4 linked regions of the Homo sapiens genome follow. The protein of the gene in region 1 interacts with the protein of each later gene in a biochemical or structural test. Each region holds a gene or a part of one and is shown on either strand. Other genes may lie near its edges.

Evidence for each region.
Region 2: the proteins of MAGI2 (region 1) and ATP2B1 interact in a test that uses a peptide from one of them, tested with the Homo sapiens proteins (one large-scale study listed by IntAct).
Region 3: the proteins of MAGI2 (region 1) and CCDC134 interact in a test that uses a peptide from one of them, tested with the Homo sapiens proteins (one large-scale study listed by IntAct).
Region 4: the proteins of MAGI2 (region 1) and CAPN6 interact in a test that uses a peptide from one of them, tested with the Homo sapiens proteins (one large-scale study listed by IntAct).

The regions. Positions count from the first base shown.
Region 1 is NC_000007.14:78,016,555-78,019,611, forward strand, and holds the end of MAGI2 (membrane-associated guanylate kinase, WW and PDZ domain-containing protein 2), read right to left. Parts: coding exon 2,761-3,057; 3' UTR 501-2,760; downstream 1-500. UniProt on the Homo sapiens protein: Seems to act as a scaffold molecule at synaptic junctions by assembling neurotransmitter receptors and cell adhesion proteins. Plays a role in nerve growth factor (NGF)-induced recruitment of RAPGEF2 to late endosomes and neurite outgrowth.
Region 2 is NC_000012.12:89,604,339-89,607,838, forward strand, and holds part of ATP2B1 (plasma membrane calcium-transporting ATPase 1), read right to left. Parts: intron 9-3,500; coding exon 1-8. UniProt on the Homo sapiens protein: Catalyzes the hydrolysis of ATP coupled with the transport of calcium from the cytoplasm to the extracellular space thereby maintaining intracellular calcium homeostasis.
Region 3 is NC_000022.11:41,799,468-41,803,478, reverse strand, and holds the start of CCDC134 (coiled-coil domain-containing protein 134 isoform 1 precursor), read right to left. Parts: upstream 2,801-4,011; 5' UTR 2,713-2,800; intron 2,481-2,712; exon of another isoform or gene 2,403-2,480; intron 1-2,402. UniProt on the Homo sapiens protein: Molecular adapter required to prevent protein hyperglycosylation of HSP90B1: during translation, associates with nascent HSP90B1 and the STT3A catalytic component of the OST-A complex and tethers them to a specialized translocon that forms a microenvironment for HSP90B1 folding.
Region 4 is NC_000023.11:111,253,484-111,256,983, forward strand, and holds part of CAPN6 (calpain-6), read right to left. Parts: intron 921-3,500; coding exon 789-920; intron 1-788. UniProt on the Homo sapiens protein: Microtubule-stabilizing protein that may be involved in the regulation of microtubule dynamics and cytoskeletal organization. May act as a regulator of RAC1 activity through interaction with ARHGEF2 to control lamellipodial formation and cell mobility.

The sequences.
Region 1 (3,057 bases):
AGCAGAACTCTCCCTTCCTACCACAGGCATCGCAATACATGACAAAAGCTATATTCAACCATTCATTTTGGACCAGTTCACTGCTGCTTGCTATGTTGGCTTCTGCATGAACTCCTTGGGATTTTGCATGAGAAAATTTCAGAATTAAAAGGAAAAAATGTGATGGAATTTATTACAGATGGATACTTTAAATCCTTTTTGAAAAAAGGTAAAGTATCGATCAATGTAGCAAGCAACAGAAATATACAGCCAATTCATGAATGATGTAGTAACCTGACAAGCAAATATCAACAAGACTGAGAAAACTGTTTACTTAGGCCAAAAAAGCCAATGATCTTTCCCATGTAATGCCACTGCTTTTAGATTCAAGTTTCAAAAAAGTCCTATTTGGGGCATTAAAACTTATACTTCCAAAAATAAAAAAAGTCGATGAAAACTGCAGTTTTGAAAAACTAAGTTAACCCCCAGTAATAATCTATTTCAAATTAACACACAGCCTATATAGTTGGAAAAAGAAAAGATTTTTGGATATATATTTTATTTGACAGTGTTTTAGAATATCATACAGTAAACAAGATTTCTGTAAAAGTTAATTTATCCATAGTGGTACGTTTCATAAAAATAGTTGCTCACTTACAGTCTTTCTGTGACTATTAATACATGGAATTATATTTATAGAGATACAGCTGTACAGGGTAAATTCACAGCTAACACTACACAAATATTATTTGGAATGGGATTTAGATGATGTGCTGTCTTCACAGGTTATGGATTACAGCCGCATAAAGCAATTACTGCACAAGTAGTAGCTGTGAACTGTGCAAACTAGAGTTTATGCCAGTGTAATCTCAATTTTTTTTTCCTTTTGTAATACATGGAAAATAAAGTCAGAGGATACAGTACCAGGACGTGCAGCTACACTACAGAAGCATTGTCCAAAACCAGATTCAATAAATTAATGGCAAACTATACTGGATTTCTAGTCCAGGGGAGAAAGACTAATTGAGATTAAACCAAAAGCATTATAAACTGCTACAAGTGTTTGTGCTTTTGTTTACGATGAATGGGTTTCATTTTTGGAAATTGCTTTTACAAGCTGCAAGATCCTTCACTTGAGGCTTTCAGCCTTATTCTCCTCCTGTCAAACAACTAAACTACTCCGATGTTTGATGAAAATTAAACTGCTACTCAGGATACTGCAATTACAAGGAGAGGGAATGATCAGCCCAGGGAGGCTATTACGTGTGACCTTTGAGATGGACCTGATCGCCCCTTTTACTTTTTAGACTACAAGTGCAGGGAGGTGGAGCTTATTTGCATTTGAACTCCTGTAAAGAGTAAGAATATGGAAAGGATGAAGCCTCATTCATTCGGGCATATTAAAAAGAAATTGCCTTCAGAAACACTTTGCCTTTTAATATGTGTAGCTACAGTAAGTACCAATGGCTAATTAATTGAAGCTAACATTTTACAAAGAAATGCTAAAACAGCAGGGAAGAAAGGCAAGACTTAGAATTTTACTAGGAGGTCAATCATAGATCCATGAAGATAAACATCTAGAAGTTGCTAACAAAATAAAGTGGCAAGGAATACAAGACGAAAGAAAACTAATGGAAACAAAAGGACAAAGGGTAAGGAAAGAAGGATAAGCAGAAAGGAATGCTAAAAAGACTCACGTTCTTTAATGAAAATAAATTGATTGTAATTTTTTAATATTATAATCTGAGAAATATAAGACAAATACTCTGCCTCTGCTCTGTCAAAGTGCAAATGAAGTCATGGAGACAGGGTTTAAAATAAGACAATAAAATAAGTGAAATCACATTGCTGACAAAGAAGCTATCCATCTCTGCTAGCCTGGGACGACAGAAAAGCCTCTTCATAAAGGAACTGCAGCGTTGCCTATCTTGATTAAACAAATTGTGGTCCTTCAATTATAAAATTCATATTTTAGAGAAAAACCAATTAAGATCTATGAGCTAAACTGCAAAATTCTGACTTATGGCAAACTGTTCCCTAGGATACAATTTTTAAAACCTTTTTTTTCTACCACTGAAAATGTACAGAAATATGATTTGATCACAGAAAGGGCAATAAAAATGGCATCACACCAAGAAACTCACTAGATTTCTAAGTCATCCTGCAGGAGGCAGGGAACGCTGCTGCTAACACCGAGGATGGATGCCAAGGGTGAGCCATGGAAACATGTCATGGGTGAACGGTTCCGAATGTGTCAAAGAAACCCTTTAACCCCTGTCTAGATATGTCGAGAACAATTTATTTACAACGCTTTAGATCAATTAAAAGATATAATCTTGTCTCAGTTTCAGCTTGCTCCGTGCAGTTTGATTTTTAAGGCGATATTCCAGTTTGTGATTGCTCTTAACTTTGTCCTGTTTCTTGATATAAAGTTTGGATGACATCCAAGTCCTTCATGCAGTGGGGAGGAATATTTTTTTTTCTTAAACTAAAGCTACACTGCACTGTCTCTCTGTGATGTTCTTCACGTTATTTTGGTTCTTCCATAGCTGCCAAAGCCCCCACAAGGGAACCGGGGGCTTTAGGATCAGTTTAGGTCTGCGCGTTGATGCGATGCCGCCCAAGCACACCGGACACGTGGGACTTCACGTCGATGCTCCCAGGCCTTGGTGCCTCGTGGATCTATGCGTGTGACAGTGAAAATAAATTAAAACGCCGTGAGACGGAACCTAAGAAGAACTGCCTGCGCCGGGGCGGGCGGGTTGGCCGTGGCCGCGCGGCTCATCTGCTGGCGGCCGAGGCGCCGGGTTTGAGGACGCTGGGCAGCTTGTCAGAACCCGGCACCTTCCAGGGCCCCGGCGCGACGGCGGCCTTGCGCGCCGGGGCGCCCCCCGGGGGTCGCGGGCCCGGCCGGGGACCCGCGCGCGCACCCGCCCTGCCCTCGGCCTCCAGCGCGCCGCTGCCGCCGCCGCCCGGGCCGGCAAACGCCGGCGCAGCCCCCGGGCCTTCGCGCCGGCAGAGCTCGGAGCCCGCCGCCGCACGGGGCGCCTCCTTCCCGCCCGCCCGCGCCGCGTCCGC
Region 2 (3,500 bases), on another chromosome or scaffold:
GCAATACCCTGTTAAAAAAAATTTTGTGAATTAGACTAAATGTTTTAAGTATAACTTTCAAATAGTCAAAAAATACACACTTAATAAACAAAAAGTTTACCATTATACCTAATAAATATTACTTAAATTTACACTAAAAGAAGGTAACAGAGTTATTCTAAGATATTACTAGGAAAGACATTCTGGTTTAGCAGAAATCAAACAAAGAATGAAGTATTAAAAATAAGGTTCAAGTTGGGTTAAAAATGGAGGAATGAACAAAGACATTACCCAAGTTCCTTCCAAAAGCCACACAAAAAGGTATCTGTTAATAAAAAGCAAACAAACTCTATGAAGACAAAGTTAGAGGAAAAGGAGATTCTACCAAAAAACAAACAAACAAACAAAAAACCCATAAAACCTTAGAGGCTAGAAAGCAGACAGCCAAATGGTAAGTAACTCAGCAGACACAAGAAAGCTGAATCCTAATCCAAGTGTAGAGAAAGTAGAAGTAGCCCCCTTTCCCCCCAACAACAGAACCCCCCTGTCAGCTCCAGACTTGGCAGATTTACGTGGCACTGGAAGTAGGGGTGAAGGTAGGAATAAAAAAAGGAAGATCTCTTGAAAGTCTACTGAAGACGCATTTAGAAGCTTCAAACTAATAACAATGTCATCAACAGGAGAATGGGGTAATTAATAAATTGTGGATTAATAAAATGAGTGAACTACAACTATATTAACATAAATGATCTGACAAACATAATGCTGAATAAAGAAGATGAACTCAACACATAATGTATGACTCTTCTGTACAAAGTTCAAAAACAGGCAAAAGGAATAATCTTCAGGATACTGGTTATCTTTGCAGAGAGACAAGGCAGTAATTAGAAGGGAGTAGGATTCACTAAAAAATTATCAAAAAGCTTAACCTCACGAACCTTGCCACGAGCTGAAAGTGTTCCCCAAATTCATGTGTTGGAAACATAATCTCTAATCAACCAAGTGCAGACATGGAAACTCAGAGGTGATATGATGAAGGCTCTGCCCTCATGTATGGATTAATATCATTATTTTGGGAGTGGTTTCATTATCAAGAGTGACATCATTATAAAGGTGAGTTTGACCCCCTCTTGCTTTTGTGCTCACTTGCGGTGTTCTCTTGCCCTTCTCCCATGACATGACACAGCATGAAGGTCCTCACCAGATGCTGGCACCCTGGCTCTTGGATTTACTCACTTCCAGAACCTCAAGTCAAATAAACTTTTATTGTTCATGAATTATTAAGTCTTAGATATTCTGTTATCACAATACAAAATGGACAAAGACAAACCCTTTCTCAGGAAGCAGCTGGAGAAGATGACTCCACCAGATAAGGGAATAAACCAAAGAAGATGATGCCACTGAATTCATGAAGTACAAGATCCAACACAAAGGAGAATAAAGAAAATCCTCAGGTATGGAGACCAAGAAGACAGCTGTGCAGCAAGGCTAGCAAACAGCGAGTGCAGATTAAAGCATGTTGAAAGATGCTGAGAGACGTATCTCTTAGACACTAAAATTGGTAAGAGTGCTAAAGGTCTCTGATGTATGAAACAGAGAATTTGGGGATGAATTAGTTAAGTACATAGAAAAACTAAGCCAAAAAAATTCAAACAAACCAAATAAAAATTAAAAGAAAGCAAGTAAAAGACAACAAATTATAGGGAACATAAAAAGCTGTGTAAGGAAGGAAAAGTAATTACAGTAGACCACACAGATCAGGTTGAAACAGCATTTACAGTCACAGTAAGTCACAGTAAGGACTGAATATTGATCAAATCTAAATTATGATATAACTCTGCTGGCAGATGATGGGATAGGTAGTGAGCATGAAGGTATATGCGGTGAATGTGGTCTATATGCTTGTGAAAGCACTAAGTCCTCACCTTCATTAATGAAAGTCAGTAGTTAAAGCCTTATATTAAAAAAATCAAAAAGCACCAGAATTATGTGATTCAGAGATATAAAGGTACATAACTAAGTAAAAGAAGCAGCTAAAACAGTTTCCTTTGGGAGCCAAAAATTTGGTATGTGGCAGGGAACTTGCTATTAAGTCTTATAGAACTACTTGACCTTTTAAATGCTACGCATACATTGTTTTGATAAACATGAAGTTCAGATGAAACCTTTCTCAAAATACTCAATGAAGAAACAATCTTATTTTAGAATCTTAGTCTCCAGCTCCCAATGTGAATATTTTACTTTTAATGTCCCACTTTTTTTTTTTTTTTTTTTGAGATAGAGTCTCGCTCTGTTGCCCAGGCTGGAGTGCAGTGGTGCGATCTCAGCTCACTGCAAGCTCTGCCTTCCGGGTTCACGCCATTCTCCTGCCTCAGCCTCCGGAGTAGCTAAGATTACAGTCACACATCACCACACCCACTATTTTGTATTTTTAGTAGAGACAGGATTTTAATATACCATGTTGGCGAGACTGGTCTTGAATTCCTGACCTCAAGAGATCCACCCGCCTCGGCCTCCCAAAGTGCTGGGATTACAGGTGTGAGCCACCATGCCTGGCCAATGTCCCATATATTTAACACACTTAAACTCAATGGGATTTCTTGATTCTCATCATACCCATATTATACAAATGCAAATCTCACCATTCCCTTGCTCAAAATCCTTAACATTTCTAAAAGTAACTCTATGGTGTTAATTGGTATTCAAATAAAAACTAGTTCTATGATGAAACAAGTCTGGAAAACTTTCAATCACAAAACGTTAAACTGCTTTTTAAAAATGAGCTTCTAGGAGTCATATGATATCGCATAGTGTGTCTCTAAACTTACATCATCAGAAGTAGGCTTGGCAAATGTTCATCTACAGGATAAGAGAAAAAAAATTCCTTATCATGGCATTCAAGGCCTTTTTAATGTGGCCCCCTGTGAATTCTTCTAGCTTCGTATCTCATTACAGCACCGCAACCTCTTCTAGTTAGATTGAAAAACTTGTACATAATTCGCTGATGAATGAGGGCCTCTTGGTTCCTCTCCTTCCCTCAGCTAAACTGGCACCTCTTCCAGAAAACCCTTCCCAGTCTCTACAGGCAGAGTCAAGGACTTCTGCCTGAGACACTTGTCACTGTCCTGTAATTATTTCCATGTGCTGTGAATTTTTAGGAGACAGCAACTCTTCACTTCTAATGTTCCGGGACTGGAATACTGAACACAGTCTCAATATTTGGAGTCCCGCATTAATCCAAATAAAATTTAAATAAAAGTATTTTAATTACCTTAGGTTTTACTACCATAGATGTATTTGATTATTGGATTACACCATGAGATTCAGTCTTTGATGACAGCAGTATCTCTATACATGGTTAACTAATTTTTGGCAAGAATAATTTCATGTGACAAGGATTCTCTCCTTCGACCAAAACTTGCTATGTAGATAATTGTTACACTATATTATTTAGGGAATCATGACAAGAAAAAGTCTGCACATGTTCACTACAGATGCAACCATCCATATTTTTTGTCCCG
Region 3 (4,011 bases), on another chromosome or scaffold:
CTTTTTAAACTTTATACCTATTACTTTTTAAATTTTTGTTGAAGTATCACTCCTGACAGAATAATGCTGGCCCAGAAGTTTGCAATGACAGCAAATGCCTATGGAACAGCCAAAATTGAACTTAACAATGAACTCCAGGTAGACATACCTTGAGAGCCACTCCTTCCAAACCTCCCTTGCTGCTCAAATGTGGCTAAAAGGTATTTGGGGTTTTTTGAGGCAGGGTCTCGCTCTGTCACCCACGCTGGAGTGCAGCGGTACAATCATAGCTCCCTATAACCTGAAACTCCTGGGCTTAAGTGATCCTCTACCCAACTGACTCCCGCACACTCCCCAACCAATGCCCAGATAACTTTTTTTTTTTGAGACGGAGTTTCGCTCTTGTTGCCCAGGCTGGAGTGCAATGGTGCGATCTCGGCTCACCGCAACCTCCACTTCCCAGGTTCAAGCGATTCTCCTGCCTCAGCCTCCCTAGTAGCTGGGATTACAGGCATGTGCCACCACGCCCGGCTAATTTTTGTATTTTATTTTATTTATTTTTTATTTTTTTATTTTTTATTTTTTTGAGACAGAGTCTTGCTCTGTCGCCCAGGCTGGAGTGCAGTGGTGCGATCTCGGTTCACTGCAAGCTCTGCCTCCTGGGTTCACGCCATTCTCCTGCCTCAGCCTCCCAAGTAGCTGGGACTACAGGCACCTGCCACCACGCCCGGCTAATTTTTTGTATTTTTAGTTGAGATGGGGTTTCACCGTGTTAGCCAGGATGGTCTCGATCTCCTCACCTCATGATCCGCCTGCCTCGGCCTCCCAAAGCGCTGGGATTACAGGTGTGAGCCACCGCGCCCGGATGTTATTTATATATATTTTTGTATTTTAGTAGAGACGGGTTTCTTCATGTTGGTCAGGCTGGTCTCGAACTCTCAACCTCAGGTGATCCGCCCGCCTTGGCGGTTGCCCAGGCTGGTCTTGAACTTCTGGACTCAAGTGATACTCCCTCCTTGACCTCCCAAAGTACTGGGATTACAGACGTGAGCCCCTGCTCCCAACCACTACAAGGGTTTTGACACTGACTCCTAGTCACCAGTCTCCAACTGGAGACTCCTAGTCTCCAACATGGCAAGAGACCAACAACCCAAGATAGGTCCGTCCCAGCACTGAGGGACCTAACTACAGGATGACTGATCAGTAAAGTTTTTGGAGAAAGATCTTGACCAAAAGGGGGAAATATGAAAGTTGTTAGAATCAAAACAGAGTCGTTTGTGTTAAAAACTCTGACAAATTTAAAGCATGATTCTCCAATGGGAAAAAACAAGAACAACAACTCTGACAAATAAAACCGAGGAAGGTTGTGAAAAGAGGGTTCTTATGCACAAATGACTGATAACAAGATCACAAAAAATGCAAAAACCACAACCCTGCACAAAGGCCACTGCAAACTTACACAGAAAAATCTTTCTGTGAGGACATCTGCCCTGCAACTGCCTGTCCAACCTCAGACTAGCACCACTCTTGCTATTCATCCTTGTAGCCAAGGATAACTATCTCAAAATAATCATGTAATCCTCATTTTTCCTTTTCAAAACCTTTGTCTTCCTTTACCTCCCCAAATACGTACACAGGTTACTATGGCACACATATTGTCACTACAATGTCTATTCCCAAGTAAACATCATTTTTTTAGAGTCTCTCACTCTGCTATTTAGGTTGACAGTACCTACCACACTCTAGGCACTGTTCTAGAGGCGGGAATACAGCAATAAATAAGCAAAAATCTCTGCACTCATGGTACTTGTCTCTAGTAGGGATAAGAGTTGATCAATAAACTTGTAAAATAAGCACAGAGGGATGAGAGGGTGTCGGTCAGGTACAAGATTACATAAAGTGGTCAGGAGAGGTCTCACACTCAGATTACAACTCCCCAATGTTACCAATGTGAAATCAAGGCACAGAAAAATGAGGTGACTGCCCAAAGTCACACAGCTATTCCCAGGCTGAACCAAGTGTCTGTTTGGCTCTAAGTCCAGTGCTCTGTCTTCTGACTCTTTGTAAATGAGCACAGGCTACCTGAGATCAGAGCTGGCTACTGAACTACCAGGACACCTGCCCCAGGGGAGAGATGCTCAGTTACAGACAGTGAGGGGCTGCAGAGATCATCCGGAGAACCCCCTACCCCCAAGCAGACGAGATAAGTGAAACCTAGAGAAGGAATAGTCCAAGTTCACCCAGGACCCTCCACATTCCACCTCCTGCTCCAAACTCAAGGGAACCAGAACCAGGCTAGGGCAAAACTTTAGGGGCCAAGGAGAATACCAGACAGCTGGCAATGACTGAAGCAGGTAGTGGGAAAGAAAAGCCAGAACAGCAGCCTGCGGGACAGGTCCTGCTTTCTCTACTGTTAAACTCACTTTTTCAGCCTCTCAATCCCGATCCTGCCGTATGCGTCACCCGGAGCTCCTCCTGGCTCAGCATGAGGCTCTGAACTCCTGCAGAGGTACCAGGTAGTGGCGGGCCTTGAGCCAGCTACCGGGGTCGGGGGCCCAGGTGGTTGACCCCGAGCCTTCGGAGCTCCCGGAGGAGGGAGCGAGCCTTCTCAAGGAACAGAGGCGTCCAGGTCCACGAAACTCCCTCCCCACCACCTGCAGCCGGTTCGAGGCCCTCGGTTCTCTCATTATCCTTCCCGGGAACCTGCAGCCCGCGGCCCCTACAGCCACCTACCTGGCCAGTCGGTGCAGGAAGGGCAGGTGGCCGAGTCCTGTGCGAGCAGCTAGGCTCGAAGGTCCAACAGGCTAACAGCAAAGCAACTGAAAGCGGGAGCAAACGGCTAGCAACCGAGCGCAGACCGCCGAGCTCCGTCCCGCCCACCGCGCTGCTCCCGGCCAATGAGCGCGAGCCGCCACTGCGGGGCTCCGCTAGCCTCACTTCCGGCCCCGCTCCACCGCCCCTGCCTGCCCCTCCAGGCTCTGGCGTGCCTCCAGCGCGCTGTGGGCACCATCCTCGTCCTGTCCCTCCTGCGGGCCCTGGGTACGTGGCCCTGGATTTAGCTTGTGTTGGAGGAAGTTAAATCTGTGGGTGGGGTCTGTGCCCAATTTAAGGCGTGAATCAGCAAACTGGGGTCCCAGCTCCTGTCGGCCGGGCGACCTTCTGCGCGCCCTCCCTGAAACTGTGTCGTCGTCTGTGGCCGAGTTTTTAAACTTTAGATCGCAACGTGAGTTTAGTGGGCGGTGACTAGCACTTTTGTTCTTCTTTAAGGACCTCAGAGACTCAGTGCAGGATTCGGGCATCCCCTCCTTGCCCCTCCGGTCCACCAACTAATAAGCCAAGTGCGGCGGGGGCTTCCTCGTCCGTTCGTTAGGCCGAGTGCAGCCCCACTTTTGCGCAGGATCAGGACAGTCAGACCCGAGAAGGCAGCGTGGCGTGGCCATCTCCGGGCCCGGGGCCCCTGCCGGGCGGGAAGGGAGCTGGAGGCCCGGTCTGGGCTGAGCTCCCCAGAACAGGCGCAGGGCAGGCACTGTCGAGCGCAGACCTCATGCCGGGGACCAAGCTGGACATGCATTCCCAGGATCTACCCACGAGGGTGCATAAACACCAGTTCTGATGACGGCTGTACGGGAAGGGACAGAGGTGACCTACTTTAGCCAGACAAGGGCTGAGGCTGGGACAGTTTCGTTCTGATAGGAAAGCTGAGAATTTGACCCTCCTTGCCTGGAAAGTTTACCTCTATCCACCTCCACGTGAGGCGAGGGAGCAGGTCAAGTGCCTCTGGGAGCTGTTGAATCGCAGCAGCCCCAACCCCTAGGCCTTTCTCTGCCCTGCCAGCCCCAGGATGGCCTGACTGGTGTTCTCTGAGTACAGCTGAGGCACCCAGCTGACTCCTTGAATGCTGTTACAAGAACAAATCCTGTCCCGTCCCTCCTTCCCTGAGGAGGCCATCAGTCTCCTTGCTGAAACAATCCCTTATCCAACTGGCTGAGAAACCAGCTCCTGGTAGACAAGGTAGTACAGTGTTTTTGGAGA
Region 4 (3,500 bases), on another chromosome or scaffold:
ATGCTTTCCACAAATAATCTATAAACTAGATGTTGAGAAGCGGACTATATAAACATATTCATGATTGCATGTTTAAAATGCAAGGCATTCTAAAGAGCAAAACCAATCAAAATCAAGGCCCATTGTAGTTTGCTTTTTAAATATCCATTCTAGAGATTTTATATCAATTATATTAAATATGGATTTCATTTGCATTTTGAATAAAATCATGTTTAGGAATTTTTTTTGTATAACAGCTACACATTAATATTCTAAAATTATTTTTTGAGGAAAATGTTTTAACTTTGTCCCAAGTCAAGTTAACACTTCATTGCCTTGACCTCTACCTGAATGCTAAAGGAATTTTTGTACTATTAATAATTTATTAGAACTTTTCAAGTCCTACTTCTGTATTTCTCACCTTTTTTGTTATTAATATGTATTATTGACTTCCTGGCTTCTACTGACTTTATACCCCAATAGGTACAGATAACATAATATGCAGAGATACTGAGTCAATGCACGGCAAATGATAACCAAAGATCAGTGAGCATATATGACAAAGCAAGTAGAGTAAAATGTTAATGGTAGAATCTAGGTGGGTATATGAGTGTTCACTATAAAATTATTTCAACTTTTCTGTGTTTGCAAAACTTCTTATAATGAAATGGAGGGAAGTCGCCTAGTTAATATCTCTGCTTTCAAGAAATACAACAATCTAAGGAAGTTATGCGCTGATTTTTTTCCTAAAGTTATTAAAGAAGACAAGAAAGTGGAAACTGAATGAGGTCCCACAGGAGGGATAATACCTTTGTCCAATGAGACTCCTGAACAGCCAAACAGGAAAATGCAGAAACCATTGGCTTGTGCCCCAGTCTCCCTTGGGTCAGCTGGTGGTTGCTAATGTTGCCCACAATCAGATGGGGGTCATCACAGATGTCCTATGAATACAATAATTGGTTATATGAGAGTCTGGGAAGAGTTTCTCAAGAGTCACTGTGAGCTGAACTAGGCAGGACAGCCTTCATAGAGGAGATAAGGTTAGGGTTGAAAAATAAGTAGGATTTCCATAGATGGGATGAAGGGAAGGCTGAGGGGATTATAAGGAAAACCAAAAAACAGTTGATCATCTAGCCCCATGTTTGGAAGTGGCAGGAGAAATGAAAGGAGAGGGTGTCATGAGATTGGGTGCCATGCGGTGGTGAGGGCTCTTAGACATAGCTATCATTGGGGTTTGGGAGAGTTTTCACCACAGCAGTGAACTTTCCAAAAAAATAATAACTAGGAATTAGTACATTACATTCTGATCCTATTTTGCCAGGATGAGATTTTCTGAAGCACCTGTGCTTGGAAGGGAGATTGTATTAAAGAGACAAGGTCTAATGAAGGTTAACATTAATTCATCTCCTTCTCTAGGAAAACCAGTTAGGAGACCTTATAGGAAGCCCTTTTCTAACATAAAGCAAAAGCAACAGTGGTCTCCATAGCAACCAGATTTTTCTACATTTGTGGATGAATATAGATGACAGCAGCATTAATAGCAAGTGGTAATAAACCACTCACAGGAACACTTCAACCGACACTCTTCCCAGTGAAGGTCCTGAGGGGATCTGGGCAGAGTGGGGGCAGTATTTGTTTGGAATGTATGTGTGTATCTTCCCCCCAACATATTAACTGTGCCTTTCCCACTGGGAGTAGGAAAATGATACCTAAATGATACAATTATAACACAAAGCGATAGGGCACAGTAGAGTCATTTTCAAAGCATAATTCATGTCTAAAGGAAGAATCCCCATAATTCTCCTGATCACAGTCAGAATAGGATTCATAGTGTTGTTAACACTGGAGTTGACTAGAATTAGGCAGTTGGACAAGAGAGGGGTACGGTGGCATAACAGGTAGAGAGAAAGGCATGGGCAAAGGCATTGTGGCATACATGACACTACATAGTTGAAGACATAATTGGGTGACTCAGAGTATCAGCATTTGAAGAGTTCAAAGGCAGGAAATACCAATGCATTCTTGACTAGATGGAGAAAGCTTCACGAGGAGGCCATTGGCCGGTACCTTGACATTCTGCTTACGCAGCAGAAATAAATCCTTGTCTCAAATGGAATCTAGACATATATCCTTTTAAAAAGTATTAGAGACAGCTATATTTTTCTGGTCCTCAAACCTCTTTTTTTAATGGCCATAATTCTCCTTGACGAAGGGTCTGGTCTACAGAATGAAACATTCCATATATTCTTTAAAAGCCAAAATAACTCTGGAAAGAAATAGGCAGGCATTCTGGGCAAAGACAAGTCCAAGCTGGAGATTAACTGGGCATCCCTCTGCCAAAAGGAGATGGCTAGATAGGTTGTCAGCTTTGGATTCTCAGGTCTTTTTTTTTAGATGCATGCCTGGTAGTTCACAACTACTTTTTGTTTTAGGAGAATTTTCTATCTTAAAAAATATTTTTTATGGGCTGCAAACTGCCTTTGTTTTCACTTGTTGAACATAGAGCAGGTATGTTGGGTAAGTCAAACCCTGATGTTCTTTTTCTTCTCATTTTTTTGGCCTTTTCTAAAATGAAACTAAGCACAGTTTTTCCTCCCCAGGTCAGGTGTTTTCATTTTATTTTGAGCAAGATGTCAAAGTATAAAATAATTTCTGGCCAGGTGTGGTGGCTCTCGCCTGTAATCCCAGCACTTTGGGAGGCCGAGGCAGGTGGATCACCTGAGGTCAGAAGTTCAAGACCAGCCTGGTCAACATGGTGAAACCCCATCTCTTCTAAATATACAAAAATTAGCCAGGCGTGGTGGCAGGCGCCTGTAATCTCAGCTACTCAGGAGGCTGAGGCAGGAGAATCGCTTGAACCCGGGAGGCAGAGGTTGCAGTGAGCCGAGATCACACCATTGCGCTCCAGCCTGGGCAACAAGAGAGAAACTTCGTTCCAAAAAAAAAATAATGATTTATTTGACCTAGATAATACATATCATAGTTTCCTAACATGGAAAAACAATAAAGTGAACACTGATATATGAAAAAGTGTGCTTTTAGATTAATAAGGCAAATTATTTGCTAATTTTATGTAGAGTTATTAGTGGTTGGAGATACATTATGGTGTCTTGAATTTCCATAAAATTTTCATTTCACAGTAGGTATCTAGGCTTAGCCAACACTTTTGGCATGTCAACTTCTATTGAAGACATAAAGGGTCACATAAGTGAGCAAAAAGACATATAAACAATTCAAATTGAGGAATGGGGTAATTATTCTCTTCTTGACCCAAGATGGATATGATTATTATATATTATATGTGTCTATGTATATACATGTATGTACATATAATATATATATTAAAAGCTGTGTGAAATTCATGAGAGAATGTAAATTTGGGACCCCCCCCCCCACAACATTCCATTTCCTCTTATAAACTGGCCCATTCTCCAGTTATACTTTACCCCTTTTCATACGTGATGGCTATTTAACAATAGATTTAAAACATGACAAGTTAACAGTCATAGAATGTCAAAACT